Linked DNA regions of Homo sapiens: regions 1, 3 and 4 are each linked to region 2. Evidence: fine-mapped expression QTL. A gene starts in region 2. Each other region holds a variant in brackets. All regions are shown on one strand. Distances are between the middles of the regions.

Region 1 (7,751 bases), 290 kb before region 2:
TTGGTGATCATAGGGTGACTATAAGTTCTGGGGTGCTCTAGACCTGTTATCCTGGCCCCCTATTACTCTCAAAAGTACTCCAGTTCAGATATAGTGTCTTAACCATAGCAATGCTTCAGAAATTGCTATAATGACATATATTATATCTACAGAGGAATATGACTATATATGCCCACTATTGCCATCTACAAAGCCTTTCTAAACAAAGATTTGAAACCAGGTAGTGCCTGACTTACCATAGAAGTCCAGTGGCATTTTAAGTAACTTCAATAAGAACTGACTCTAGGCCGGGCACAGTGGCTCATGCCTATAATCTCAGCACTTTGGGAGGCCAAGGCAGGTGGATCACCTGAGGTCAGGAGTTCAAGACCAGCCTGGCCAACCTGGTGAAACTCCATCTCTACTAAAAATACAAGAACTAGTCGGGCGTGGTGGCATGCACCTGTAGTCCCAGCTACTCAGGAGGCTGAGGCATGAAAATTGCTTGAACCTGTGAGGTGGAGGTTGTAGTGAGCTGAGACTGCACCACTGCACTCCAGCCTGGGTGACAGAGCGAGACTCCATCTCAAAAAAAAAAAAAAACAAAAAAACTGACTCTCTTATAGCTTGCCAAGAGGTTCTGGTTTAATGGTATTATTTATTTGTCTTACGAGTTTTGTTAGTCTAATTCCTTCTGGATCACAGTAGTTGTAGACCACAGAAATTTCTGCTGTTCAGAAACTGTCATAAAGCAGCACTGATGTTTACTTACTGCCCATCAATGCTTCTCATGTCAATCTTAAAAGAACCAGTAATTATACTGACTAGTGTGTTAGTTATTCAAAAGAAACAAATATGGTTTCACTTTAGTTCTTCTGTTTTCTCTTTTGAAGTTGTAGTCAACATATCAGGATTTTTTTTATTAACACTATAATTCTCATTACATTATTTTAACAGTTTTCAAAGTAACATAAGTAATAGGGCATATAAGAAAAATATTCAGCCTTCTTAAGGCAGAAGAATAAAAGTAGCTAAGATTTGTTGCGTGCTTATTAAATCCTAGGAACTGTTCTAAGTCATTTATGCATTAACACTCCTCCTTGGGGGACGACATCAGCAATATGGCACAATAGGAAGCTCCAAACCATTCTTTCCCCCTACAGACAATGATTCAACAACAACACATGGACCAGACCCCTTTGTGAGAAATCCAGAAACTAGGTCAGAGGCTCCTGCACCCTGGGGAAGCATGAAACCAGTCACATTGACCAACAGGAAAATTTGTGGCACTCACTCAACAGAGCCCATATCCCCAGCATAGCCCAGAGTGATCCTGAGGTAATTCTCAACTCCCAGCTTCTTCCTGAGGGAGGGAAAGAGAAGACTGGAACATAGGCCTAATATTCAGACATTTTGTGGGGCTACCCAAGGGACTGGTTTCTGTCTTACATGAATATGAGCATGGACAAGAAACAGCACCAAGTTGGGACCCACTAAGAACAAAGGTGATGGTAAGAATTGTAACAAACTCACCTGCCATCCTCCCCTACCCCCAGTTCAGCACAGCACAAGTGGGAGAAAACTCCTAACTCCTGACTTCCTGCTGGGGAGGAAAAAGAGTTGCTGTCTCTATCCGACATTTCCAGCTTTTCAGAGGGCTGCCTGCGGGTCTGGCTTCTGTTTCATCCGTTTTGGGTACTTGTGGGTTGCAGCATATTTTAGATGCCTGGGAATCACTAAGAACAAAAAACAGCCGAGTAGCTTACTGCTGCTCCAAGGACCTATGGTGCAGAGGACAGAGGCTGATGCAACTTGGCAGCTTCTCCCCTCAGGGGGAAAGGAGGGAGTGGAACATGTGTCCAATGTTCCAGCTTCTCCAGCATCTGCCTGAGTAATGAATTTCTGCCTAACCTGACTAAGAATGCTATTGGGACCCTGACAGGGTGCCACTAAGAATAAAACCTGGGTGGCCAATGGCAGCTCCAGAGAACCTGTAGTACTCCAGACAAACACCAGAGGGAGGACGAGATAATGAGCTTCAGAAAAAAGAAAACTGGTCATTAAGAATTTACATGCATAAGTCTGGAGAAGACACATTACCAAAAAATCTTTGAGAAGTCACCAGAATCACTAGCCAGTCGGATTTGTGAAGGTCCCCGTATGAAGCCAGTAAATACTGGGGGAGGTAGTTCTTTTTTCAAATGTGTGCATCCAAACACAAAGTAACAAGGCATCTAAAGACACAGGGAAACACGGCCTAACCAAAGGAATAAAATAAATCTCTAGAAACCGACTTTAATGAAACCCAGGTATATGAATTATCAAGGAATTCAAAATGATCTTCATAAGGATGCCCCATGAGCTCAGGAAAACAGCAAAGAGATAGAAAACACTACAAAGTAACAAACATAAAAAATTTGGAGCTGAAGAACAAAATAACTGACTTTAAAAATTCACTAGAGTGATTTGAAGCAGAAGAAAGCAGGAGAAAGAATCAGTGAACTCAAAGACAAGTCATTTAAAATTATCCTATCAGAGGAACACAAAGAAAAATGAATGAAGAAGAGGGAAGAAAGCCAAGGACTATGAGTCACTAGCAAGCACACCAATATATACATTATAGGGTCTCAGAAGGAAAAGAGAGAAAGAAAGAAGTAGAAGAAATAATGGCCCAAAACTTCCCAAATCTAAGAAAGAAAATGGACATATAGATTCACAAAGGCCAACAGAGTCCATCATGGATGAACCCAAAGAAGATCACACTAAGACACATTATAATCAAACTGTCAAAAGTCAAAGACAAAGAGAAAATTTTGAAGGCAGCAAGAGATGCTTGAACTCCCATGTTCATTGTGGCATTATGCACAGTAAGCAAGAGATGGAAACAATCTAATTGTCCACTGACAATTGATGAATGGATAAAGAAAAGATGGTATAAATATATAATGGAATAGTATTTAGCCTTTTAGAAAGAAGAAAATACTGTCATATGGTACAGCATGGATAAACCTTGAGGATGTTATGCTAAGTGAAATAAGCCAGTCACAGAAACTGGGACAAGACAGGGATGCCCTCTCTCACCACTCCTATTCAACATAGTGTTGGAAGTTCTGGCCAGGGCAATTAGGCAGGAGAAGGAAATAAAGGGTATTCAATTAGGAAAAGAGGAAGTCAAATTGTCCCTGTTTGCAGACGACATGATTGTATATCTAGAAAACCCCATTGTCTCAGCCCAAAATCTCCTTAAGCTGATAAGCAACTTCAGCAAAGTCTCAGGATACAAAATCAATGTACAAAAATCACAAGCATTCTTGTACACCAATAACAGACAAACAGAGAGCCAAATCATGAGTGAACTCCCATTCACAATTGCTTCAAAGAGAATAAAATACCTAGGAATCCAACTTACAAGGGATGTGAAGGACCTCTTCAAGGAGAACTACAAACCACTGCTCAATGAAATAAAAGAGGATACAAACAAATGGAAGAATGTTCCATGCTCATGGGTAGGAAGAATCAATATCGTGAAAATGGCCATACTGCCCAAGGTAATTTATAGATTCAATGCCATCCCCATCAAGCTACCAATGACTTTCTTCACAGAATTGGAAAAAACTACTTTCAAGTTCATATGGAACCAAAAAAGAGCCCGCATCGCCAAGTCAATCCTAAGCCAAAAGAACAAAGCCGGAGGCATCACGCTACCTGACTTCAAACTATACTACAAGGCTACAGTAACCAAAACAGCATGGTACTGGTACCAAAACAGAGATACAGATCAATGGAACAGAACAGAGCCCTCAGAAATAACACTGCATATCTACAACTATCTGATCTTTGATAAACCTGAGAAAAACAAGCTATGGGGAAAGGATTCCCTATTTAATAAACGGTGCTGGGAAAACTGGCTAGCCATATGTAGAAAGCTGAAACTGGATCCCTTCCTTACACCTTATACAAAAATTAATTCAAGATGGATTAAAGACTTACATGTTAGACCTAAAACCATAAAAACCCTAGAAGAAAACCTAGGCATTACCATTCAGGACATAGGCATGGGCAAGGACTTCATGTCTAAAACACCAAAAGCAATGGCAACAAAAGCCAAAATTGACAAATGGGATCTAATTAAACTAAAGAGCTTCTGCACAGCAAAAGAAACTACCACCAGCGTGAACAGGCAACCTACAAAATGGGAGAAAATTTT[C/T]GCAACCTACTCATCTGACAAAGGGCTAATATCCAGAATCTACAATGAACTCAAACAAATTTATGAGAAAAAAACAAACAACCCCATCAAAAAGTGGGCAAAGGATATGAACAGACACTTCTCAAAAGAAGACATTTATGCAGCCAAAAAACACATGAAAAAATGCTCAGCATCACTGGCCATCAGAGAAATGCAAATCAAAACCACAATGAGATACCATCTCACACCAGTTAGAATGGCAATCATGAAAAAGTCAGGAAACAACAGGTGCTGGAGAGGATGTGGAGAAATAGGAACACTTTTACACTGTTGGCGGGACTGTAAACTAGTTCAACCATTGTGGAAGTCAGTGTGGTGATTCCTCAGGGATCTAGAACTAGAAATACCATTTGACCCAGTCATCCCATGACTGGGTATATACCCAAAGGACTATAAATCATGCTGCTATAAAGACACATGCACACGTATGTTTATGTGGCACTATTCACAATAGCAAAGACTTGGAACCAACCCAAATGTCCAACAATGATAGACTGGATTAAGAAAATGTGGCACATATACACCATGGAATACTATGCAGCCATAAAAAATGATGAGTTCATGTCCTTTGTAGGGACATGGATGAAATTGGAAATCATCATTATCAGTAAACTATCTCAAGGACAAAAAACCAAACACCACATGTTCTCACTCATAGATAGGAATTGAACAATGAGAACACATGGACACAGGAAGGGCAACATCACACTCTGGGGACTGTTGTGGGGTGGGGGGAGGGGGGAAGGATAGCATTAGGAGATATACCTAATGCTAAATGACGAGTTTATGGGTGCAGGACACCAGCATGGCACATGTATACATATGTAACTAACCTGCACATCGTGCACATGTACCCTAAAACTTAAAGTATAATAATAATAAAAAAAAGAAAGAAAATGAGGTTCTTCTGCCTTCCTGTGACCAACTTTCTCTGTTGCCAGTTAATGCTGGAGCATGAATTATTAATCTATTCACCAATTTTCTCTATTATGAGCTGAGTATGATTAAATACACTCACTTTTTGATGCTATTTTGAAAAAAATCTAACAGGTGAAATAGATTTGAGAGTGCAGAACAGAGTTGCCAGAGAAAGCTGCAAAGGAACTCTTAAGTTGGCGCTGATGCTGAGTGAAGTTTGAGTGGGAGGAGAAGACAGAGAACAGAGAAGGGAATGAAGGGTGGAATTAGCTTGGTCTGGGGTGGAGGCAGCAGGGGGACAAAGCATATGCCTTTCTTCTTGAGCACTGAAGTTCTTGGGAATTAGGCTGCAGCAAGCATTGCCAGTCCCATCTGGCCCACAGCTGCTTCTGGTAATCATCCAGGTTTATCTCCTGCCAGACCAACAGAATTCCTGATGAGTAGTTGAGCTCAATAGCTCAGTTCCACTTCAAGCTCTGAATCTGGGGTATGCCAATGAATAGCATCTGAACTCCATGAGAACCATGGAACTCACTTAGGGCCCAAGCACCCTCTATAACATCTGCATCATATCTCCTAGGAAAGTTTTAGAATAAATTAATATATTTGTATTCCAAAAACCAGAATAGATTTCTTAGAAGTATCATGCCAGGTATGTTCCAATTATTTCTCATCCCATGTACCAAGCATCCCTATGTTTCTTTGGCAGTTCCAACACTCACCACCCAGTGGTGGACCACGAACTGGGACCCAAAAATCATTCCCAGCCAGCTTCTAGACTCAGTTTTGTGAAACAAGTTGATCCCTGGTTTTTCAACCACAAAACATATGTTAAAACTTTATTTTATTCCCTGAAACATATTACCAAGTGAAATGAAGCAATGCATATAGTATTTCTAAGGGATAGGTCATTTAAAAAACATTGCAAATAGTTTACAAAAAAAGTAGGGTGTAAAAAACTTACACCCTACTTACTAAGTAATAAGAGTTACCACCCACACCACTTCCAATATTACTAAACTTACATGAATACAAACATCTTCCTAGAGTAGATGCACTATTACTCACTGAAGCTGATTTATAATAAAATAAAACATAAGGGAAAGAACGCTGAAAGAGTCTTGAGTACTATTTTTGGTCCTGCTACAAACTCCTTATACTAATTACCTTGAACATGTTACCCTAACTTCTCTGAACCCTATTTCCCTCATCTATAAGTGTTAAAAGGAAACTAAAAACACATATGGGTCATTTCCAGGTCTGAAATGTCTAGATTATTGGATCTAGATTGCTTAATTCCCTGGAAACACGTTGTGTGGATCAACTGGGAACACAAAATCATTTCAGGGACTATAGGAAATCACTATATAAGTATCATTACAAGGTTAAATACACCTATTCTATTAATCTGTGGCTTGTTTTTCACTAAATCTCCATTTTAATTTGACATTAGTTCTAATCCCAACCTGCTAAACTATAATGAGAAACCCACGTCCTTGGTAGCTAATCTCCAAATATGGCCCCTAAATGAGCCCTATCTTGCACTGTACACATCTTTATGTAGTCCCCTCCCCTCTCTCCCTGTTTAACCAACAGAATGCATCTGAAATGATGTTCAGGGACTTCCAGGTCCAGGATATAAGAATCTTTGCACCTTACTCCTTGGAACACTTGCTCTGGGGGAAGCTAGCTGTCATGTAAGAAGTCTGACTATCCTCAGATCACCATGCTATAAGGAAGCACAAGCTAGCTATGTAAAGAGGACACATGGAAAGAGAAAGATGCCTGACAAGCCCCCATCAGTTCCAGTCATTCCAAATGAGGCTCCACACATGTAAATAAAGAAGCTTCCTTGCCTATCAGCCCACTCGAGCCTTCAGATGACTGACTCCAGGCCCAATAGCCATCGGACTATAACCACAAGAAGACTCAGACGAGAATCACTCAACTGAGCCCAAGCAACCAAGATAACTATGAGATAATAATAAATGTATTTTAACATAACTATAATAATAAGTGGATGTTTTGAAGTAATTTTTCTTTATGGAGAATAGATCATTCAAACAATATCCCAAGACCCCAAAATTCTACTTCCTTTTAAATATTCTTAGAAAAACCTGTGACTACATAAAAGGAAGGTTGTAAAGTGATCTTTATTGCAACATTTTTTGCAATGGCAAAAAAACTGGGGAGAAATGTTCATCAGTAAGAGAATAAATAAATCATTATGGTATATCTTTATTGGGAATACTAATAAACAGCAGTTAGGAATAGTGAGGTGCAAACATGGACAAATATCCAAAGTTACATCATTCAGTAAAAAAAAAATACAAATTGATATTTATTATTTAAATATTTTTGTTTAAAAATGTATTTTTATGTTCCTGTGTCTGGACCATAAGAAAGAGTGAGAGAGAAGGTATAGTACCTTGTGTGGTAATAAATGCTAAGATGAAAAATCAATCATGGAAGGGAACAGGATTTTCTGGGGGTATACACTTTTTTAATAGGCAGATGATATGGTTTGGCTGTGTCTCCACAAAAATTTCATCTTGAATTCCCACATGTTGTGGGAAAGACCCAGTGGGAGGTAATTGAATCATGGGAG
Region 2 (7,751 bases):
CAGTGAGCCGAGTGCCACTGCACTGCAGCCTGGGCGACAGAGCAAGACTCTGTCTCAAAAAAAAAAAAAAAAGGTAATAGCAAGTGTTGATAAGGATACGGAGAAGCTGGAACGCTCATTCATTGCTGGTGGGATACAAAATGATGCAGTAACTTTGGAAAACAGCTGGGCAGTTGAAGTCCTAATGGTTTTTCTGGTTTTTCCTTAGTAATGACCTTAGGAAGATGAAAATGTGACAGCACTTTAAGGACAAAATTAATCTCACAATTTAAAAAGCAAGAAAATAAATCATGTTAGAAATGTACTTACACTTTCATCATCATCTTCTGCCACAGAAATCTGGGATATATGTTTCTTGGGTATCACCAGAAAATGTGTTGGTGCTTGAGGGGAAATGTCATGGAAAGCAAGGCACTAGGGAAAAGAGAAATAAATAAATAAATCAAACTTTTAGTATATTGGTAGGATAAAACTTATTTCAACAAGTATTTACTGAGCAGTAACTACATGGAGGGCACTAGATGCTAAGAAAACAGAAGTGTACACATTACGAATGGTGCCGTGGTCCTTTCCATGGAAGTCTTTTTTTTTTTGAGATGGAATCTCACTCTGTCACCCAGGCTGTAGTGCAATGGCATGATCTCAGCTCACTGCAACCTCCGCCTCCTGGGTTCAAGTGATTCTCTTGCCTCGGCCTCCCAAGTAGCTGGGATTACAGGCACGTGCCATCATGCCCAGCTAATTTTTGTGTTTTTGTAGAGACGGGGTTTCACCATGTTGTCCAGGCTGGTCTCGAACTCCTGACCTCAGGTGATCCACCTGCCTCGGCCTCCCAGAGTGCTGGGATTACAGGCGTGAGCTACTGCACCCGGACTCCATGGAAGTCTTATGGGAAGACCAACTTTAAAAGTATAATCACCAAAGGTCATACATGTTACAAAGGAAAAATATGAATGATCATTACAGGAAAAGCCTGATTTAGATTAAGTGTTTAAGAACAACTCTGAGGCAGTGACATTTAAACTGGGAGCCAATGAATGCATAAAAATTGGCCATGCTAATCCTTGCCTGCCTCTCCAGATCTCCTGCAGGTCTTCACATGGAACTGGCCTTCTGAGCTCTCTGCCCTCAGAGCTTTTTCAATGATCCTCTCCCCCTCCAAACCCCAACTTCCGTCTAATTTAAACTGCTAGTCATTCCGCCATTCCATTCCCAGCACATACATGATTTCTGGGAGAAAAAAGAAAAAACAGAAAAAAACCTCTGATTGCCCTCCCCGTCCCATTACTCCCAGGTCAGAGTCCTAGTTGTGCAATTTCCTGGTTTTTTTTTTTTCTTTATGATAGCAATCAGTTTTGTAACTACATATTTGTCTGATACTTGATTAATATCTATTCTCACTTTACTCAACTATTTAAGAAATATACCTATCCTTTTGTGTAAAGCTGAAGAGTATATATATGATATTCTTTAGCATTTAGACTAATTATTTAAAACAGTGTCTGTAAATACACATATGACATGAATATTTTCGAATCTCTTGCTCACTGCTGAAGTGAAAGCTGTTTTAATAAAACCCATCCACACTTATTTGTCTCAGGAGTAATTCTACTGGGTACTCCCTACAAAATGCTGATTCATTTAGAATGCTTCCTGCCGTTCTACAGTTGGACTTCGGTGGTTCAAATGTAAATTTTTCAAGAACCATTTCTCAAAGGCAACTGCGAACTTTAAAAAGAAATATTTTTTCTAAAACCAAAGAATTTCCCCTGAGTAGAGACAAAGTATTTTTTTTTTTAATTTACCTAGAGGAACCTAATTAAATTTTTGATAACGTTTTGAATCTAACCGACATTAGTAGAATAAATGTTTTTCTTAGATTTTATATTTCCTAAATTTAACAAAACTGTTTACAAAATTTGTTCTATCTAAATCAGCCAATCTGCCCAGCTTTATCTGAGATCCAATCCCAAAAATACAACTGGCCACTAAATAATTTACACAAGATATCTCAAAGTCACATCAACTGGGATTTCACCTACAAGAAGTCAACAAAAACTACAGTCTTAGTCTCTTGGCATAAAATTACTTCCTGTTGAATACAAAAAGAATCATTCAGCTGTTTGTAAGTCCAAAATGTTCAGCGGGAGAGGTCAACGGAAAGCAAATCCCAGACGCGGGCCCACTTCTTATCTCAGGAGATCGCCTCGCTAGCCCAGGGTAGGCCTTGGGGTGGAGATAGGGATAGGGGTAGGGGTGAGGGTGGCAAGCCGCACCCCGCGGAGGAAGCCGGCAGGCCCAGACGGCCCGCGCACCTCCCAGCGCCCCTGGGGCCCTCGAGCACAATGCCTTGCTGAGCAGCGCCCAGGAACGCCGGGCCCTGGCAGGCCGGCTGTGCGCGGGAGATCGCGGAGATTGGGCCTGAGTCAGGGCGCGATCGGGTTTCTCTCTGTCAGGCAGAGCGCTGGCGAGATTTCGAGATTCCTGATACAGGCAAGGTCCGAGGCAGCCGGGGAACCGGCGGGCTTCCACGCGGGGGCCCCAGTGCGCCCCGACACGCGCCCAGGCCCCGCGGTGCGGCACTCAGGGCGCCCGGCGGCCTGGCCCGCGCCCGGGGCAGATAACGAGTAACCGGAGCGCCGGCACGCGCCGGCAGGCCGCCTCGGAGTGCCCGGGCCCTGTCCGCTGGCTGGGGGCCCGCTGGACCAGGGCAGCCAGGTCCCCTCCCGTCGCCGCTACACTCGCGACCCCTCCTCTCCCTCCGCGAGAAACCCGAGGATCCGCGGACGATACCCACCTCAGCAGGCGAGAGAGGTGGTGCCCAGTACCTACCCGGTCATCCTCAAAAATGATTTTGGCTGGTATTTCCTTGCGGATGATCTTCCCAAAGATCGTGTCGCCACCAGGCCGAGCGACCTGAGCCTTGGCAATCTCATCTGCCATCTCGGCCTCTCTCCCGCGCGGCGGCCAGAGGAGAGGCTCGGAAGAAGGGAGGAACCCGCAGAGCGTGCGGCGCGAGAGGGCGCAGCCAAGCCTGCGCAGGTGCCCCGGCTCTGGCGCCCCACCTAATCTTGCGCGTGCGCACTGGCGACCTGGGCTGCGAGTGCGGCCAGCGCGCTAGAGCGCCTCAGGGACCTCCGGCTTGGGGAAGTTCCTGGTCTTGAGCTCCAAGGAGATTCCTAAGTCGTTTTTCTATCCTCCTTTCTTGTCTCCTGGGGAATGCAGTTACTGGTATAAACCCTTCGTCTGCCTATGGATGCTTGTAGGGAAAGTTGGATACTGTAACTGACAAGATTTGATAATTTAAGTGGTGCTGGCTGCAACTTAGCACTTAGATTATTTAAGGTCTTGCTGCTGCAGCAGATTTTAAGTCCTCTCTTCAACAGAGTTTTTTTCTCTCTCTACCAGTGGTTCTCAATCTTGACTACACATTAAGATCACTTGGGGAGCTTTTAAAAATCCCCGTGAACCTGGCTGCAGCCCAGATCCATTAAATAAGAATCTTTGGAGATGAGCCCCAGGCATCAGTAGTTTGTAAACCTCCCTAGACTGCTCTGCAAAGAATTTTTCCCAGCAGCAATCAACATAATGTATTAATAAAATGACCCACTTTAAAAAAAAAAACCTTCCTTAATCCCACATCCCCCTCCGTATCTTTGCTCGTTTTATAAAGAAGTTTTCTACATACCATGTCTGCTTTCTTATCTTTCATTTTTGAGTCCATTTCCCTCTTGTCAAGGTCACTAAGGACATCCATTTATAAAATCCTATAGACAATTACAGTTATCATACCAGACCTCTAAGTGTACGTATTAAGAAAAAGTATACCTCCTCAATGCCTTTTTTTTTTTTAGATAGATTCTTGCTCTGTCGCCCAGGCTCGACTGCAGTGGCACAATCTCGGCTCATTGCAACCTCTGCCTCCCGAGTTCGAGTGATTCTCATGCCTCAGCCTCCCAAGTAGCTAGGACTACAGGCGCGCACCACCACACCTGGCTAATTTTTGTATTTTTAGTAGAGACAGGGTTTCCCCATGCTGGCCAGGCTGTTCTCAAACTTCTGACCTCAGGTGTTCCACCCGCCTCAGCCTCCCAAAGTGCTGGGATTACAGATGTGAGCTCAGCTGCCTTTTATGATTACATTACTACCCTTGTCTTGGCAAAATTATTGAATGTGGTTGCCTTTAATCTCAAAAGTGTCCATTTGGTACTTTTGCTATCAAAGACATTACTGGGACAATTCGTAAAATCTAAATAATGCCTATAAATTAGATAATAGTTTTGAAGTCATGTTAATTTCCTTTCATAACCACAGAAAAATTGTCAAAATCAGTTGATCTGGGGTGGGGCCCTACAAGTTAGGTTTCTAACTTTCCAGGTGATACAGTTGCTGCTGGCCCGGGAACCATACTTTAAGAACTACTGATACAAGGGAATGTCTTTGTAGGAAAAACCCACTGAAGTATTTAAGGCTATGGGTATCATGTCCGCAACTTACTTTCAAATAGTTCAGAGAAAAAGTGTCTGTCTATAGGTAATTAGAGAAATAGAAAAGGATAAAGCAATTACAATAAAATGTTAACATTTGGAGAATCTGACTGAAAGGCATATGCAAATTCTATGTATTATTCTTGCAACTTTTATGTGTCTGAAATTGTCAAAATAAAAAAATGTGTGCTGGTTTGGATAATAAATAACATGGTCAGCTTTCATTCCATCTGAAGGCTTTACCATCTATAGAGTAGTGACTCTCAAGTATTTGTCTCTTGACCTACCTCTTCCCTTAATTCCAGACTGGTCTGTGACATACATTACAGCCTATTGACCACCTCCACTTAGATGGCTACCAGGCACTGCAATTTTATTTTGACTCCCTCCACAACAAACAAACCAAAACCTCCTTTTGCAGGATTCTGTATCTGCTGTACCACCATTCACCCAGTCACTCCAGCCAAAAAGCCTTGAAATCATCCTTAAACCTTCTCTCTGTACTTTCAACACACATCACCAAGGATCTAATCACTTATCTCCTCTATCTCCACTACTCTAATCCAAGCTACTAACATCTCTTTCCTGGAGTACTTTGAAAGGCTCCTAGTTGGATAACCTATCTGCTTCCATTGTAGTTAATTTGCCACACAGCACCCAAAATGATCTTTATAAAATATAAATCATAATGTCACTCTCCTGCTGGTAATATGCTAGTGTATAACATCACAGAATAAAATCCAACATCCTTACCTTGGCTTATAGGGCCCTGTGTGATCAGGCCCATTGCTGCTGCTTCTACCTCATTTCTTTCCATTTCAACCTTATTGACTGGCATCACGCAAACTCAGTGTGCTAGGCAGAAGATGCCCATGTCCTAATCCCTGGAGCCTGTGAATATGTTACTTTACATGGTAAGTGGGATTTTGTAGATGTGATTAAGTTAAGGATCTTGGAATAGGGAGGTTCCTGCATTATCTAGGTGGGCCCAAAGTAATCACAACAGCCCTTGTAAGTGAAAGAGAGACACAGAAGAGTGAGAGTAAGAGAAGGAGATGTGACCACAGAGGCAGAGGTGAGAGTCTGAGATTTGAAAATGCTCGGCCGGGTGTGGTGACTCACGACTGTAATCCCAGCACTTTGGGAGGCCGAGGTGGGCTATCATGAGGTCAGGCGTTTGAGACCAGCCTGGCCAACATGGTGAAACCCTGTCTCTACTAAAAATACCAAAAATAGTTGGGCATGGTGGCAGGAGCCTGTAATCCCAGCTACTCGGGAGGCTGAGGCAGGAGAATCGTTTGAACCTGTGAGGCGGAGGTTGCAGTGAGCCGAGATCATGCCATTGCAGCCTTGGCAACAGGGTAAGACTCTGTCTCGAAAAAAAAAAAAAAGCTCCATTATTGGCTTTGAAAATGGAAGGAGTTGGGCCAGGTGCGGTGGCTCACGCCTGTAATCCCAGCACTTTGGGAGGCCAAGGCAGGCGGATCACGAGGTCAGGAGATTGAGACCATCCTGGCTAACATGGTCAAACCCCGTCTTTACTAAAAATATAAAAAATTCGCTGGGCGTGGTGGCAGGCGCCTGTAGTCCCAGATAATCAGGAGGCCGAGGCAGGAGAACGGCGTGAACACGGGAGGCGGAGCTTGCAGTGAGCTGAGATCAGGGAGGCGGAGCTTGCAGTGAGCTGAGATCATGCCACTGCACTCCAGCCTGGGCGACAGTAGGAGACTCCTTCTCAAAAAAAAAAAAAAAAAAAAAAAAAAAAGGAAAAGAAAATGGAAGGAGCCAAAAACAGGTAGCATTTTGTAAGTCAGAAGTCCAAATTGAGTTTCACTGAGCTAAAATCAAGTGTTGGCAAGGGTGCATTCCTTCTGGATGCTCTAGGGAAGAAATCATTTCCTCACCGTTTCCAATTTCTAGAGGAGGCTTGCTTGGTTTGTGGCCCCTTCCTCCATCTTCCTCCATCTTCAAAGCCAGCAGCAGAACATCTTCAAACTTCTCCCTGACTCTGCTTCCTTCTTTCACTTATAAGGATCCTTGTGATTACACTGAGTCCAGCACACAATCCAGGATAATCTTCCCATCTCAAAATACTTAATTTAATGACATCTTCAAAGCCTCTTGTCATATATAACATAGTCAGAGGTTCCGGAATCTCAACAGTTATCTTCTGGAGGCCATTATTCTGCCTACTACATAGCTCTGTGAACTTACATGATGAACATGCTGGAATTTCCTGTTCAGTTCTGCGACTTATACTTTGAGATGCAAACTTTAAAAAGACAATGAAATTTCAGAACCTTCCAAATTTATTAAGCCAAGGGGGCAAAGTTAAGCCTTGAAAACTGAGTCATGTAATACAGCTGTTTTTCTTCTCTGGTGCATGACTATTGTTGCTTCCCGACCTTTGTGTTGAGATGTTATACATTAATCAGACTCCCTATTCTTCGTTTCAAACCTGGACTACATAATATTAGAGCTGTAGACCCTTGTGATTGTTACTTTTTTACGATAGAATATTAAGCAACCACCTTAGAGTGTAATCAATACTAGCCAATCAGATCTTAAATCTGGATGTTATCCATTGTTTGGAAAATGTTGTAATTCTGTTTGGCATCTCCATTTTGTCTTATATAAACCATCTTCAATTTTCCTTACGCTGGAAGCACTGATCAGCATTCTTTGGTGTCTACATGTTCCCATATGACTGCCCTTACACTTTACAGTTGAATAAACCTTTTTAACTGGATCCTTAGCCTTTTGATTATTTTGGGGTGACAAGACAAACCAGGCCATGTTCCCAGAACAACTAGAATAGTGAAGAGCCCACCTCATATGTGGAACAGTTAAAGGAGACATGCAGATTTATTTAAGAAAAGAGGAGCCACAGAACTGAACTGATTCTGTCATTATAGAACTGTTTTAAAGTATCAGCAGATGAGGGACTTTGGTTAACTGAATTCAGGACAGTAGCTAGCAAGAAATCATCACAATAAGTTATGAATTTTCAGGAAGCTGCACTATGAGTCTACACTGAAAATGGGGGAGCGGGGACGGGGTATCTTTTAAATCACCGTCAGCATTCAGAAAACACAATGCAAGGTCCAAGATCATCTAGTTTATTGTTTCTCAGATAAAAGACAATATCCAGTATACTTGGTTTAATCGCTTCATTACGTTAAATGTTCTGCAAATCGAATGCATCTTAATTTTAAAAAATCGATTATCTTGTTATTCTCAGAATGACTTGCAATAATTCCTTAG
Region 3 (7,751 bases), 82 kb before region 2:
AGAGGAATTGGTATACTCTATCATAAAGTACTTGCACTATTCATGGAGCAGTACAGTATTATTTGAAAGTGGAATTGGATTAGTTGTAAACATACACCGCAAACTGTAGGGCAACCGCTAAAAAAAGTATTAAAGAAGTATAATTGATATGCTAAAACAAGAGAGAAAATAAAATCATATAAAATGTTCAATTAAAACCAGAGAAGGCAGAAAAAGAGTGAAAGGGGGAAAAAAAGAAACAAAGAACAAGGAAATAGAGAACAGTTAAAATGTGGTCAGAGATTAATCCAACTATATCAAAAATCACTTCACATTTGAGTGGTCTAAATATACTACTTGAAAGAGAGACTGGCAAAGTGGATGGGAAAAGACCCAACTACAGATTGTCTACAGGAGCAGACCTGTAATAAACAATTAAAGTAAATCACTTCTCCATCAGTTGATTTCCTACCTGGTTTAAATAATATCTGTTGGTATTCACCTGAAAAAAAGGTCTAACATTAAAAATATATAAAATTCCAAAATTAATGCATAAAAATAATATCGTTTTTGTTTTTGGAACAAAAAGAGAAACATACTAAATATAAACATATTAAATTTATGATAAATCCAATGCAATCAAAAATAAGAAAAAGATGAATAGTTGCTATGTGGAGTTGCGATAATTCAGACCAGTTGGCAAGATGGGTTTGAATATCCCTATGCTATTTTTCAAAGATTACAACTCCTTTATAAGTCTTTATAATGTAAAAGAGTTTGTAATTCTCTATTTAAATAATCCAACAAAAGGTATTCACTAAAATGTCACATGAAAGGATGATTAAGGCAAATTTTTTCCTGTTAACGCCACTCCAAAAAAGGACTGATATTATAAGAGGGGAAAATTGATTAAAAAAAATGTTTATTTGCAAAAGTCTGTACTGTTGTCCAAGAGCGTGACTTTTAATTCTCTGCCACTGACTTATCTGGTGATTTACTGATTTGATACGTACATTAGCAGAAACTGAATTTTCATATTCTAGCACCCAAACCACATCTACTTTTCCCAAGCCAAAAGGACAGCATCACAGATTTCGTAAATCAAACAGATGGAATGCTACCCAGGAGAACATAGCCACATGAGCACATAAGCACAAGGAGTTTGGCAATAACATATGACAAAGCAAAGTTAAAAAAAAAAAAAGAGAGAGAAAGAGAGAGAAATCATCCAGCACACATTCACTATTTGTCTAAAACAAGTTTTCTATATCCTTTTAGTACAGAATCAATACAGAGTCATATGAAATCTCTAGCAGCAAATATCATGCTGGGTTTCAAGCAAATACTGCATCATGAGATCTGAACTGATAATGTCAGACTCATCCTTCCTGGGGAAAAAAAAAATGAAAAGTTCCCAAAAGTTGTATCCATCAGCTGAGTTAAGAATTGGCCTTTGCCTTCTTTCTTCTTCATTCCTCCGCCTCAATTCATTCCTTTTAGGAATATGTGGGTCATAAAATTTGTGTTAATAACTTCAAGCTGAAAGAAACTGATCTGTGATTCAGACCTATATTATAATTACGGTAGTTTAAGGCATAAATAAATCCCAATCTACATGATGAAAGTGCATATATTCATTCTTTCTAGAGCTAAGGAATAGGAATGCATGTGGTGGCTGTCCCTACCCTTTCAGATTTTACTGTGTAAAATTTTACTGCTTTAATTCATCCAGATTTTTATGATCACTCATTTCAGGCTTTGGCATACCATGAAAGTTACACATAATTCCCTGAACAGTAGTGTAAGTCCAGCCTGATTCCCACACATTAGTGGACTAGGATACTTCTGTGGGAGGCTGCTGATCTAAGTGTTAGAGAAAAACATGTAAGTAATTAATTTCAATAAAGTGTTAAAAGTTCAAGGACATTATAATCAAAACCAACAGACTTTCCTATCCCAGCCCACTAAGGAACTTTGGTATGTCTCTTCCCCCACCACCACTCAACCCTATTGTGCAGAAATAAGTCATCAGTGAGCACAGGAAACTAAGGAATCTGACAGGGATTCAAAATCCATGGAAGCAGGGGGGCTGTGAGAGAACTGGAGGGTGAGAAGAATGGGAAAATAACTAGCTTTAAAAGTGGTCCTGTGAATTTTGAATTGGATCTCCATTAATTATCTTTGAGAGGCATAAGTAAAGGTTTGAATTAATTTTAATTACATACTTTTGACTGATGAACTCTTTCTTTCTTCCCTTTTTTTTTTTCTTTTAGATAGGATCTGACTCTGTCACCCAAGCTGGAGTGCAGTGGGGCAATTATGGCTCACAGTAGCCTCAATCTCCCAGGCTCAAGTGACCCTTCCACCACAGCCTGCCAAGTAGCTGGGACCACAGGCGTGTGTCACCACACCTAGCTAATTTTTTTTATTTTTTGTAGAGATGGGGGTCCCACCAAGTTGCCGAGGCTGATCTCAAACTCCTGGGTTCAAGTGATCCTCCCACCTCAGCCTCCCAAAGTGCTGAAATTACAGGCATGAGCCACCATGCCCAGCCTGATCAACTCTTTCTTTGAATGTGGCAGCATGCTGAGACTGGGCAACATGGAGCCTTTGGAATTTACTCACATTACAAGAGAAATGTATTTGGACATTGTCTAGGACATGGTAAAGAGAAAGGGTGGAGAGGAAAAGTCAAGAGGTATAGGCCAGGGTTTAACCATGAGCAGTAGTAGCTCTCAGTCACCAGGTTTCTTTTTCTCACTTTCTCTCTACAAAACCTCATATTTTAGTGGATATGTTCTGGGGACACTATCAGGCTAGGAAGAAGCAAAGCCACCTAGAAGGAAGGATAGTGGCCCTGTTAAGTGTAGGAGGGACTAACTGTGCATATTTGATTGTCCTAATATATCTCAACCAAAGCATGTGTAAGCCTGGCACAATACAGTCAGATTTTGTTCTTCTTATGAAAAAATAACCATTCTCTGTAAACTACCAGAAACTTTACCTGGCCTCATAGGAGAGATAAGAAGAAGCTAAAGTTCTGTGCCTAGAGGAAGCAAAAACTACTAAAATAGGATCCTGGGCATCAGTCTCAGCTGCATTTAATGGTACCAGGAAACTGAAATAATCCTCTTTCTTCTTTCTTTGACAAGTTTTAGCAGCCCTACACCTTTCTGAAATTTGCCCTTCCCACTTTTTTAGAAATGTATTTATCATGTGCAATATAATGTTTTAGAGTATATATACATTGTGGAATAGTTAAATCTAACTAATTAACAACTGCATTACTTCACATAGTTATCATTTTCATGATGAGAATGCTTAACATCCAATATTTTTGCATTTTTCGAGAATGCAATATATGTTCATTAACTATAGTCACTATGCTGTACAACAGATCTCTTGAATGTATTCCTTCTATCTAATTATATTAATATATCCTTTAACATCTCCCCATCCTCCACTCCACTTAAGCACGACAGCCTTGGGTAACCACCATTCTGCTCTCTAGTACTATGAGTCCAACTTTTTTAGATTCTACATATGAGTGAGATCATGTGGTATTTGTCTTTCTATGTCTGGCTTATTTCACTTCGTGTAATGTTCTGTGGGTTCATACATGTTGTCACAAATGACAGAATTTTCTTCTTTTTATAGTGGAATAGTATTTCAGAGTATGTATATACCACATTTTCTTTCTCCATTTATCTGTTGATGAACAAAAGTTGATTCTCTACCTTGGCTATTGTGAATAGTGCGGCCATAAACATGGAAGTGTTGATACTCTTCAACGTACTGACTTTATTGCCTTAGTCATTTCTTTGAATAAGCTTTCTACCCCTTGCTCTTGCTCAACTCCTTCTTGAGTACCAATA[A/G]TTCTTAGATTTGCTCTTTTGAGGTGAATTTCTATATCTCACAGGCAATCTTCATTCCTTTTCATTCTATTTTCTCCTCTGACTGCATTTTCAAATAGTTCACTTATTCTTTCTTCTATTTGATCCATTCCGTTAGTTTTTTAAATTATTTCAACCCCTTTGTTAAATTTCTCCAATAAAATTCTGAATTGTTTTTCTGTGTTATCCTGGAGATCACTGAGTTTCCTTAAAACTATTTGAATGCTTAGTCATAGAGTTCAAATATTGCCATCTCTTTAGATTCAGTCGTGGGTACCTTGCTTTGTCTGTTTGAGGAAGTCATGGTTCCTTATTTGCTGCTGTTTCTTGTGGATATACATCTATGTATTTGCATTGAATGATTAGTTATTTATTCCAGTCTTCTCTATATGGCTCATGTTGGGGTATATTGGGGATTTTTTGTTTTGTTTGTTTGTTTTAACATATTTGCTTAGAGTCTTTATATTTTACCTCGTGATTTGTTTTATTTTATTATTTATTTATTTATTTATTTATTTCTGCTAGGTCGCTGCTTCTTTTTCAGCACTAGATAGCACATTAAACCCAAGTTTGCCTCAGTTCTAGTATACAATCAGAATGCTGCCCATCCAAAATGGGGGAGATTGCAAATTGGTTATCCCAGTAGTGTAGGAAGGCTGGCTAAGGGTCTCTGCCCAGGCAACCTGTGAAATGAACCTCCTACAACATGTTGCTGCTAACAGTCACTCTGATTTGTCATCTCCTTTGGCCAAGTTACAGAGCAGAGTTTCTACAGCTGGGGTTGGTAGCCCCACTCCCTACTTTGTCTCTGGCTGTCCTCAGGGATATTTCTCCCTTCAGGCACTCCCACTGATTCCCATGGATTGAGACAGGAGAAGATCTCCTGCCAAGGAACCCAGGTGGTGAGGGAGCTCATTGTTCATCTCAATCTTACTTTGTCCAACGTAGAAACCACGAGTCAGGAAAAATTTTTCCGAGTGCTGGTGCCAGGTAGGTTGGGGAGACAGGCACTGCAGATACGGAACTCCAATTCTCTTACCATCTGCTCAGTTTTTTTACCTCTCGGTGGCCCCAGGAACTGTTTCCTCATATTAAATTCTGGGCTATTGCTGGTGATACACTCAGCTATGTATATTTGTTTTGGTTTTCTCAGGGGCAGTGAATCCAGCTTGCTTCTATGCCATCATTATAGAATCAGGAGCTCTTTATTTCATGTCCTTTAGATAGATAGACATTGCTCCCCAGTAGCAAGATTTCTGGATCTTATCATAATTTTATTTTTAATATTTTGAGGAATCACCATATTGTTTTCCATAGCTGCTGCACCTTTTTACGTTCCTACCAACAGTGTGGAGGGGTTCCATTTTCTCCACATCCTTGCCAAAACTTGTTATCTTTTGTCTTTTTTATCATAGCCATTCTAACAGGAATTAGGTGATATCTCATTGTGGCTTCAACTTGCATTTCCCTGATGATTAGTTATGTTGAGCATTTTTTCATGTACCTGTTGGCCATTTGTGTATCTTCTTTTGAGAAATGTCTTTTCAGGTCTTTTGCCCATTTTTAAATCAACTTACCTGTTTTCTTGCTATAGAGTTTGAGATTTTTATATATTTTGAATATTAACTCCTTGGCAGATTTATCATTTACAAATATTTTCTCCCATTCTCCCTGCTGATTCTTTACTGTGCAGAAGCTTTTTAGCTTGACGTAATCCCATTTGTCTGTTTTTGCTTTGGTTGCTTATGTTTATGCAGTAATACCCGAAAAATCATTACCCAGATCAATGTCATGGAGTTTTTCCCCTATGTTTTCTTCTAGTATCATTGTTTCAGGTCTTAGCTTTTAACCCTTTAATTCATTTTGAGTTTATTTTTTATATAGTGTGAGATACTGGTCCAATATCATTCTTCTACATGTGGACATGTAGTTTTCCCAACACCATTTAATGAAGAGACTGTCCTTTCACATCATGTGTTTTTCCCCATTGTGTGTTCTTGACACCTTTGTAACTCAGGGAAGTGGGCATGCTGGAGTGGATATAATGAAGGTAATTGGAAGATCCACCAGATGATTATGTTAAATATCTTTATTGCTAGCACATAAGAATATGATTAATTTTTGACTGTGGTAAAATATGCATGACATAAATTTTAACATTTTAATCCTTTGTAAGTGTAAAGTTCAGTGGCAGTAAGTAAATTCACATAGTTGTGCCACCATCATTACCCATCTGCAGAACTTTTTTATCTTCCCAATCTGAAACTGTGTACCTATTAAAAAAATAACTCACTAGTCTCTTTCCCATCCTCATTCTCTGAGAACCCTCCTTCTACCTCTGTCTCTATGAATTGGACTGCTCTAATTTGATTACCTCATGAGAGTAGAATGATATAATATTTGTCCTTTGTGACTAGATTATTTCAATCTTCATAATATCTTCAAGATTCATCCACGTTGTAGCATGTGTCAGAATTTCTGTCCTTTTTAAGGCTGAATAATATTTCATTGTATGTAATATCACATTTTGTTGCCCATTTATCTTGGGGTTTCTTTGTTTTGTTCTTTTTTTGACATATTTGCTTAGAGAGTCTTTATACTGATGGACAGTCAGATTGCTTTTGCCTTTTGGCTTTTGTGAATAATGCTGCTATGAACACGAGTATACAAATATCTGTTTGAGACCCTGCTTTAAATTCTTTTTGGTATATACTCAGAAATGAAATTGCTGTATCATATGGTAATTCCATTGTTTAATTTTTCTTTAAATCTTTAATCATGATAAAATGTAATGTAACGGGGGTGGAGCCAAGATGGCCGAATAGGAACAACTCCAGTCTACAGCTCCCAGCGTGAGTGACACAGAAGACGGGTGATTTCTGCATTTCCAACTGAGGAACCAGGTTGATCTCACTGGGGAGTGTTGGACAGTGGGTGCAGGACAGTGGGTGCAGCACACCGTGTGTGAGCCAAAGCAGGGTGAGCCATCGCCTCACCCGGGAAGTGCTAGGGGTCAGGGAATTCCCTTTCCTAGTCAAAGAAAGGGATGACAGACAGCACCTGGAAAATCAGGTCACTCCCACCCTAATACTGCGCTTTACCAACAGGCTTCACAAACGGCACACCAGGAGATTATATCCTGCACATGGCTCAGAGGGTCCTACGCCCACGGAGCCTCACTCATTGCTAGCACAGCAGTCTGAGATCAAACTGCAAGGCAGCAGCCAGGCTGCGGGAGGGGCGCCCGCCATTGCCAAGGCTTGAGTATGTAAACAAAGCAGCCTGGAAGCTCAAACTAGGTGGAGCCCACCACAGCTCAAGGAGGCCTGCCTGCCTCTGTAGGCTCCACCTCTGGGGGCAGGGCACAGACAAACAAAAGGCAGCAGTAACCTCTGCAGACTTAAATGTCCCTGTCTGACAGGTCTGAAGAGAGTAGTGGTTCTCCCAGCATGCAGCTGGAGATCTGAGAGCGGGCAGACTGCCTCCTCAAGTGGGTCCCTGAACCCCGAGTAGCCTAACTGGTAGGCACCCCCCAAGTAGGGGCAGAATGACACCTCACACAGCCAGGTACTCCTCTGAGACAAAATTTCCAGAGGAATGATCAGGCAGCATCATTTGCGGTTCACCAATATCTGCTGTTCTGCAGCCACCGCTGCTGATACCCAGGCAAACAGAGTCTGGAGTGTACCTCCAGCAAACTCCAACAGACCTGCAACTGAGGGTCCTGTTAGAAGGAAAACTAACAAACAGAAAGGACATGCACACCAAAAACCCATCTGTACGTCACCATCACCAAAGACCAAAGGTAGATAAAACCACAAAGATGGGGAAAAAACAGAGCAGAAAAACTGGAAACTCTAAAAATCAGAGTGCTTCTCC
Region 4 (7,751 bases), 540 kb after region 2:
GCTTAATTGGGAGAATAAGATTTTAAAAGGAAAATACATAAATAAATAACTATGCTTACCTGTTCTATTGCACTCTTTAATTTGTTCATGTGGCTTTCAAAGAGAGGAAAATGTGAAAAAAAGAATTCATTAAATTTGTTATTTTCATCTTCATCTTTGGACAATGAAAAGATTACCCCAATTGCAATCTTCTTTTTCCGCACAATTCCTGGGTTAGGGCCACAGCTTTCATCTGAGAGATTAAAGCTTTCTTCTATAGACCTTAAAAATAAATGATTTTTTATTAATTTACAAAAGTAAAAATAAATTCACAATTTAATCTTCTTGCTAATTAAATGTAGGTAAGCTAAGTCTTTTGCTGTTTTATCAAACAAACCTATAATTTCATACCAATTGTATATCTCTTTAAGAAATCTACTGGCTATTCTTTCAGGTTCATGTTCTTGTAAGAAATTTTACTACAGAGTCAGATTGGGAACATTTTTTTGTCCAATTAGAAGTAACTAAAGAAGTAGATAATCCCAATTCATAATCAACCAAAAAGTGGCTAAATTTTAAGATTTATAGATGAGTCTGGTACAATCTTTTCCCTGTTCTAGGCCCTTCTGGTGTCTGTTTTTGATTTCAGGAGTAAAGTCAAAGATGAAGGAATAAAGGAAATAAAAAAGAGGAGAAAACAAGAACTTTTAGTATCTACAGTTGTACTTAATGTAGATTAAAAACTAATCTTTCAAGAATGAATTACCTTGCCAAAATAAAAACATGAAAAACTGAAATATCAAAACATGTAGTATATAAATCAAAGACCTAAACATAAAACTCTTAGAAGAAAACAAAGGGTAAAGGCATCATGCATCATGACACTGATTTGGCAATGGTTTCTTGGATATAACACAAAAGGCACAGTCAACAAAGGAAAAAAAAATAAACTGGACTACATACAAATTTAACCTTTTGTGCATCAAAGGACACTATCAATGGAGTAAAAAGGCATCCCACAGAATGTAAAAAAAATTTACAAATCATATATCTGATAAGGGATCAATATCTAAAATATATACAGAATTTCCAGACATCACCAACAAAGCAAAAAAATGCAGTTATAATATGGGCAAAGGACTTAAATAGACATTTCTCCAAAAAAGATATACAAATAGCCAATAAGCACAAGAAAAGATGATCAAGTCAGATGTGGTGCCTCATGCCTGTAATCCTAGCACTTTGGGAGGCTGAGGCAAGTGGATCACTCGAGCCCAGAAGTTCTACTAACCTGGGCAACATGGCGAAACCCCATCTCTAAAAAAAAAGAAAAAAAAAAAATTAGCCAGGTGTGGTGGCAAGCCTGTAGTTCCAGTTATTTGAGAGGCTGAGGTGGAAGGATCACCTGAGCCCAGGGAGGTTGAGGCTGCAGTGAGCCGGGATTATGCCACTGCACTCCAGCCTGGGCGACTCAAAAGGGAAAGAAAAGAAAAGAATAGAAAAGATGTTCAACTTCACTAATTATTAGATAAATGCAAATAAAATCCACAATGAGGAACCACTTCAGACTCATTAAGATGGCTATTATCAAAAAAACAGAAAATAAGTGCTGGTGAAGATATGGAGAAATTGGAACCATTGTGCATTGCTGGTGGGAATGTAAAATGGTACAGTAACCATGGAAAACAGTGTGCAGCGTGACAGTTCCTCACAAATTTAAAAACAAAATTACCATATGATCCAGCAATTCCACTTCTGGATATATAACCAAAAGTATTGAAAATGGGGACTCGAACAGATACTTGCACACTCATGTTCAGAGCGGCATTATTCACAATAGTTAAGAAGTGGAAGCAACCCAAGTGTCCATCAATAGACAAATGGATAAACAAAATGTGGTATGTATATACAACGGAATGTTATTCAGTCATAAAAAGGAATGAATTTCTGACACATGCTACAACATCGATAAACCTTGAAAACATTATGCTAAATGAAATAAGGCAGACACAAAAGGACAAGCAGTGTATGATTTCATTCATACAAGGTATGAATGAAAATTCATAAAGACAGAAAATAGAATGGTGGTTACAAGAGGAAGAAAAGGGAGAAATGAGGAATTACGTTGAATGGATACAGAGTTTCAGCTGGGAAGAGGAAAAAGTTCTGGAGTTGGATGGTGATGATGGTTGCACAACAATATGAAGGTATTTAAACAAATGTCACTGAACTGTACACCTAAAAATGGTTAAAATTGTAACTTGTTATGTATAACTTACCACAATTTTAAAAATGTAGTAAATTTTAAAAGTTTTCAGTTTCAAACTTAAAATACACAGAATACAAGTCCAGGTTCTAAAAAACCCATATAAAATTGTGTTTAAGGAACTACTCAATCTTGTTCTGTGTTTAAAGTTCCAACTTACCATCTAGGAAATACCCCATTTTCCAAACTTGTTGTTTGGCTGCGTCGCCAACGTCGCTGGTAGCTGCTGGCACAACTTCGGGTAAGTGAGGAGTTTGGGGAAGGAAATGGAGTGATCAGCAAGCTGCTGAGAGATGCTGTTAAGTCAGAAGAACAACAAGTATAAGTCAATAATGACTAAGCATAATGACAAATTTCTTTTTAACAAAATTACAAATAGGTTAAGTTAAACTTTATTTTGCTTCATGAGCCTCAAAAATGTTCATTAAAAGAACACATCCTTCTTGTAGCAAGGTCTCAGAGGAGAAAAATCATATATTAACAATGTATCAGCAAAAAACTCTGAGACAATCCCCTTTTGGCATTCCCCTCTAGGGACTCCAGAAGAAAATTATACTTTGCAACAAGGCATTATCCCTTTGGCCACTGGATTGACTGTCCCCTAACTCAGTTGAATCCTTTTAGTTCTTAAATTAAAGGAAATCTGATGCTATTCAAACTTAATGCAGCAGCTGGATTTTAAGAACAAGCTATTGAAAATAAGTGTCTGAATGGCATTTAAAGAGGTCATTTACAAGTATTCATGGATCACATGTGCACATGTAGTCAAACCTACCACTTTTAATTAAGAATCATGACTATACCTACTAAGCTCCAAAAAAAGAATGCTCCCTGGAGCATCTAAGGTGACAAACACATTCCAGCAGACTCCACTCTTTCACGGCTGCAATCCCCTGATCTTGGGGATGGATTATTCCCTTCCCGAAACACTTCTGTGAAATCTGTAAGATATGTTTATTGCTTGAGGTGTTAAGAGCTACAACTGCTGATTTTTCATTAGGCTAGGAGATTTTCATCAGGCTTTTCCCCACTGGATTTAGAGAGGATAACACTTGCCATTAAGGGCTTGCTTTTGTTTGGCAATATTCCAGACTTCTATCTTTCATGATCATAAGCACATACTGAAAATGTATATTCAAAACAGGGAACCATTATCATCACTATTAAAAAGGTACAGGCCAGATGATAAATTATTTTGGACACCAGCACTAAAAACTGAGACACTTTCATTATGAAGATCTATTCATTTGAATTCTGACAAATTCAATGATAGAGGATAAAGCTGTATGTGCCATGCAAACATGTAGACCATCAATGAACTCATTCTAAATTACTTTAGAATGCAGATTCTAAATGCAGACCACATTTTATCAATTAGTATTATAAACTCTTGTAGTCCAAGATTGGGTATGTACAACTAAATCTGGGTATGACTTCAGTGAAAAATAAAATGCTGTCCTAAGTTTGGAAAAAATACATTTCACTGCATTCTAATATTAAAAATAACCCTATTAGAAAAAAAAGAAAACACACATTAACTTAAATGGCATATATGAATCCAATAACTTGAAGCAGCCTAACAGATCAGTCTAGCCAGATGCTTCAACTTACAAAGAATGTAAGTATAAATAAATTATACTTAAATCTTAAATAAAATAATGAGAATTAAATTCCTGCCAGGGAAGACTAAATATCTAGATTACATCGAAGCAAAGTTTATTAAAAGAAATAAACTCTAGATTCTTTAAAACAAAAATAAGAAACTCAATTAGAAAAGAAAGATGAGATTACTTGAAAAACACAAGCTACTCTTATTAGAGTAGTGGTCGGCAACCCTAGCTATCCATTAGAATCAAGTGTTAGGTTTTGCATTTTGTTTTGTTTCACAAATACAGATGCCTAGAGATACCTTCTCTAGGTTACACGAGAGTCTTTGAAAGTAGAGTTCAGGCACTTGAATTTTTTATAAAACTTCTCTTTGTTATTCTAATACATACCTAGGGATTGCAATATACAGCAAGTTTAGATTTTTCATTTATACTCAAAACTGAATTACAAAACAATTTCGATAGCAGAGCCATATAATGTAACAACACATGCTATCACACTGAATTAAGTTTCTCATATCTAACAGTAATTCAAGCCTAAAATTACTCCTCCTTTTACTTATGCTGCTCTCTGGGCCCCAAC[A/G]AACACTTTTCCTTTTAGCTAAAATGCTTTTCTGAGCTTTTGCCTGGATAACTGCTATTTATTTCTCAAAATACAACTCAATCATCATCCTTCTGTAAAGCATTGTTGGCATCCCTGCCCCTTGCCCAGGCTAAGTGTGGTGCTCTTTCGCTGAAGCTTTTTGCGCAGGCCTATCACTAAATGCATCACACAATGACCTATGACAGATGATTTTCCTAATTTTTCTCCCAGTAGACTCCATACATCTGTGTTCCGTAAGGGCAGACTCTGGGCTTTAATTTTTTTAATGTCCACCATGTTTCAATAAATGTTTGCTAGACCTACAAATTTTGGACAGGTCCATATTTGGAAAAAAAAAAAAAGTATAACATTGATTCAAAATGCCTATGCTTTTCTGGGCAAGAGACAATATGACAATTTAAACTTTAGTTAGCAGCAAGCAAATATAAGCAAACGTGTTTTTTTTTTACTACAGTTTCTAAGCAGTTTTTCTGACCAATGCTTTTCTTCTTATATTCACTAAGCTTCAACCAGTGTACTTTACTCTGGCTTTACTTCATCCTGGCTTTATCCTACTTAGCACACTTAAAAGTAAACATGAAAAATATTAAATTTATAAGACTTTGCTCTGGTCTTTTCACAGTTCTCTTGTAAGGCTAATATCAATATGAACAAATTTGATAATAAAGGGAGGGATAAAAAAGAAAATCAATGCCAACAGTAATCTCATAAAAAACTGAATACAAGAACGTGACATTACCAGACCGTGCTATGCCACTGTCTCTGTCCTCATTGAGCTCTCTTCCAGGCATGTCCATTGGGTTGCTGTGAACTATAAATAAAGATGAAACTGTCAGTTATAAAATATATTGCTATTCAGGTGGATGAACAGCTCCTTTTAAATAGCAAACGAAATCATGCTCATCTCATTGCATTCCCTTATTTTTTTCAATAGCATGGCACCAACCCAACACCAAGAGCTATTACTCAGTTGAACAAGCTTTGAGAGCTCTGTGAAGATTTGATACACAGTATAAGAATCTAAAACATAATATCTAAAGAAGCAAGGAGTGACTAAAAGTCATATTTTGGAAGCATATTCAGTGACATATTTATAATATACTATTAAATGAAAAAAAGCAAGCTACTGAACAGTATGAGTGCTTGCTGGGACCAAGTGGTGGGTATATCATAGTTCACTGTACTGTTTCTGCCTATAACAATGTATGTTTCAAAATTCTCTATAATAAATTGAGATATTTATTTGAATAGTATGATCCCCATTTTCTTTAAAAAACAAAAAAGCAGGTATTTCTGGCTGATAAAATGGCTAATATATATTTTTGCCTTTTAAAAGTGTTTTCCAAGTTTTCTACAAATATATATTTTTTATATCTAATATTTACAGGGAAAGAAAATATTAATCAAAACAAGAAGGGCTAAATTGATACCAATCTGAGAACAATGAAGAGTAAATGTGTTCACATTCCAGTAATTTCCACTAAAAGGTTACAATGTTAGGTAATCCGCTAAAATGTGTGAAAACAAGGAATATGATTAGAATCCTGGATATATACACATGAACATACTCTACAATCATCAACTTGATTATGTAAGCAAATATAGTCATATATGCCTTTTACAGAGCATTATAGTAGTGCTTGTTCATCTAAATCTTAGCTCCAAGAAAAACTGCTCTTATGGAATAGTGTAGATCAGAAATTTTACAATAATAACAAGATAGGATAATTTTCTGCAATTGGTGAACTATGGTACAAAAGCTACTCAGCCATGGAAACAAGACAGTGTCACATTAAAAATTCCAAGTGGTATCATAAGAAATAAAGTTCATATTAAGTTTTGGTTTCAGATTCTGAAGTTAAAATCATTATGCCACAAGAGAAATGACAAACTGAAATTTCATAAAAATGTCAATTCTACTGATAATCCGGTGTCTGGAAACTTTAAGAACATGTTCAGTAGAAAAGGAATTAAGTTTTTATACTTCCTAATGCAATGTTTTCTTAACCACAACCTCACCAACTGCATTCATCTACTCTCTTGTTTCCACAGCTTAACTACAGATTCTAGCCGTTGGGGCACACCAACTAGTCTACCCACACAGCACATCGCAAACCTGCAAAGAAAGAGGCGCTCCTGATCAGGCGGAGCGGACCCTGCTCAGAGAATGCCCGCCTGGGGCTGCAGAACTGTGAAAGACCTACATGGCAAAAACGTAAAATACACATGAAAGAGGACTGTTAGAGAAGCCACAATGCGTCAGGGAAAAAAGGTGAGCTAAGGCAGCACAAGAGCAGACCAACAAATATGGATGGAAACTTTTAAACTAAATAAGAATTCAAGCTGTCTTTCCCATTTTTGAAACAGGATGGTGTTTCTTTAGCCATGATTTATATGAAACAACAACTTCATGTATTTTTACTAATAAATCTATATGTAATAAAAACAAGCTTCTGCTATATAAAGTAAAAATTATTTTAAATGTTCAATCCTTTCTAATGTAAAGCAGTATTTTTAAAGATTTGAAAAAGTACGATAATGTTATCTATCTAATCTGATATTTGCCAAATAAATTCATTTTTTTAAAGTTGTTTGAAGATTATAGTATGTGCCTACAACTGCAGCGAGGAGAAAACCACCTAAGCACTTGGCACACAGCATACAACAGGGTGCAAAACCAGAAGAGATCTTACTGACAAATTAAAAATTGGTTTTTCTAACCCAGTTGTAAGTTACAAAGTAATGGAAGAAACCAAGGTTACTAAACCAGGAGTCAGCCACTGTGGAAGGAGGAACACAAATGAAGCTCATCAGGGACCAGACTCCCAGCTGTTCAAGAGAAGTGGCTGCCACATGCTTCATCAAGAAAAGGTAACTGCAGTCTGAAGACCCAAGAAGGACATTATAGCCTGAAAGCAAGCAGCTGGGTTACCTGTTAGTTATGCTTCATGAAAATAGTCTAAATAGCCATGAAGGACATTTAACTAGGATGGAATACGGGGCTTTCTGTTTTAAAAAGTGACAATTGCATGTTTCTTCTTTCCTTTTTTGAAACAGAGTTTTGCTCTGTCATGTAGGCTGGAATGCAATGGCATAATCATAGCTCACTGCAAGCTCGAACTCCTGAGCTCCAGTGATCTTCCCTCCTCAACCCTCCCCATGAGCCAGGACTACAGGTGCATGCCACCAGGCCCAGCTAATTTTGAGAACTTTTTAGTAGAGACAAAGTCTTGATACATTGCCAAGTTGATCTCAAATTCCTGGGGTCAAGTGATCCTCCTGCTTTGGCCTCCTA

Alleles and levels. Positions count from the first base shown, and alleles are read on the strand shown. Sizes are in standard deviations (SD) of each study's normalised expression. Not every link is listed here.
As copies of T replace C in region 1, the expression in tibial nerve of the gene that starts at base 2,994 in region 2 goes down (small effect, 0.33 SD a copy in GTEx).

Evidence for each region. PIP is the estimated chance that this variant, and not a neighbour inherited with it, causes the effect. A credible set is the group of variants that fine-mapping cannot tell apart.
Region 1: its variant is the best candidate, but not a certain one, in a credible set for the expression of HINT1 in tibial nerve (GTEx, PIP 0.75).
Region 3: its variant is the best candidate, but not a certain one, in a credible set for the expression of HINT1 in whole blood (INTERVAL, PIP 0.72).
Region 4: its variant is the best candidate, but not a certain one, in a credible set for the expression of HINT1 in whole blood (TOPMed, PIP 0.50).

What each region holds. Positions count from the first base shown.
Region 1 is chr5:130,869,697-130,877,447 of GRCh38, forward strand. It overlaps LOC107986449 (a long non-coding RNA gene), which reads right to left and starts at 1,731. Exons shown (of 4, transcript XR_001742881.1): 1 at 1,513-1,731. The variant C/T (reference allele first, on the strand shown) is at 4,187.
Region 2 is chr5:131,162,263-131,170,013 of GRCh38, forward strand. HINT1 (histidine triad nucleotide binding protein 1) reads right to left here and starts at 2,994. Exons shown (of 3, transcript NM_005340.7): 1 at 2,833-2,994; 2 at 310-414. The coding sequence starts at 2,943. RefSeq lists enhancers at 1,723-2,383, 2,384-3,043, 3,314-3,363 and silencers at 2,174-2,813, 3,024-3,103, 3,114-3,163.
Region 3 is chr5:131,080,485-131,088,235 of GRCh38, forward strand. No RefSeq gene overlaps it. Among named protein-coding and RNA genes, the nearest start is that of HINT1, 81 kb to the right of the region's middle. The variant A/G (reference allele first, on the strand shown) is at 3,855.
Region 4 is chr5:131,704,006-131,711,756 of GRCh38, forward strand. FNIP1 (folliculin interacting protein 1) reads right to left here. Exons shown (of 18, transcript NM_133372.3): 7 at 6,573-6,656; 8 at 5,196-5,267; 9 at 2,406-2,541; 10 at 60-261. Among named protein-coding and RNA genes, the nearest start is that of RAPGEF6, 73 kb to the left of the region's middle. The variant A/G (reference allele first, on the strand shown) is at 4,436.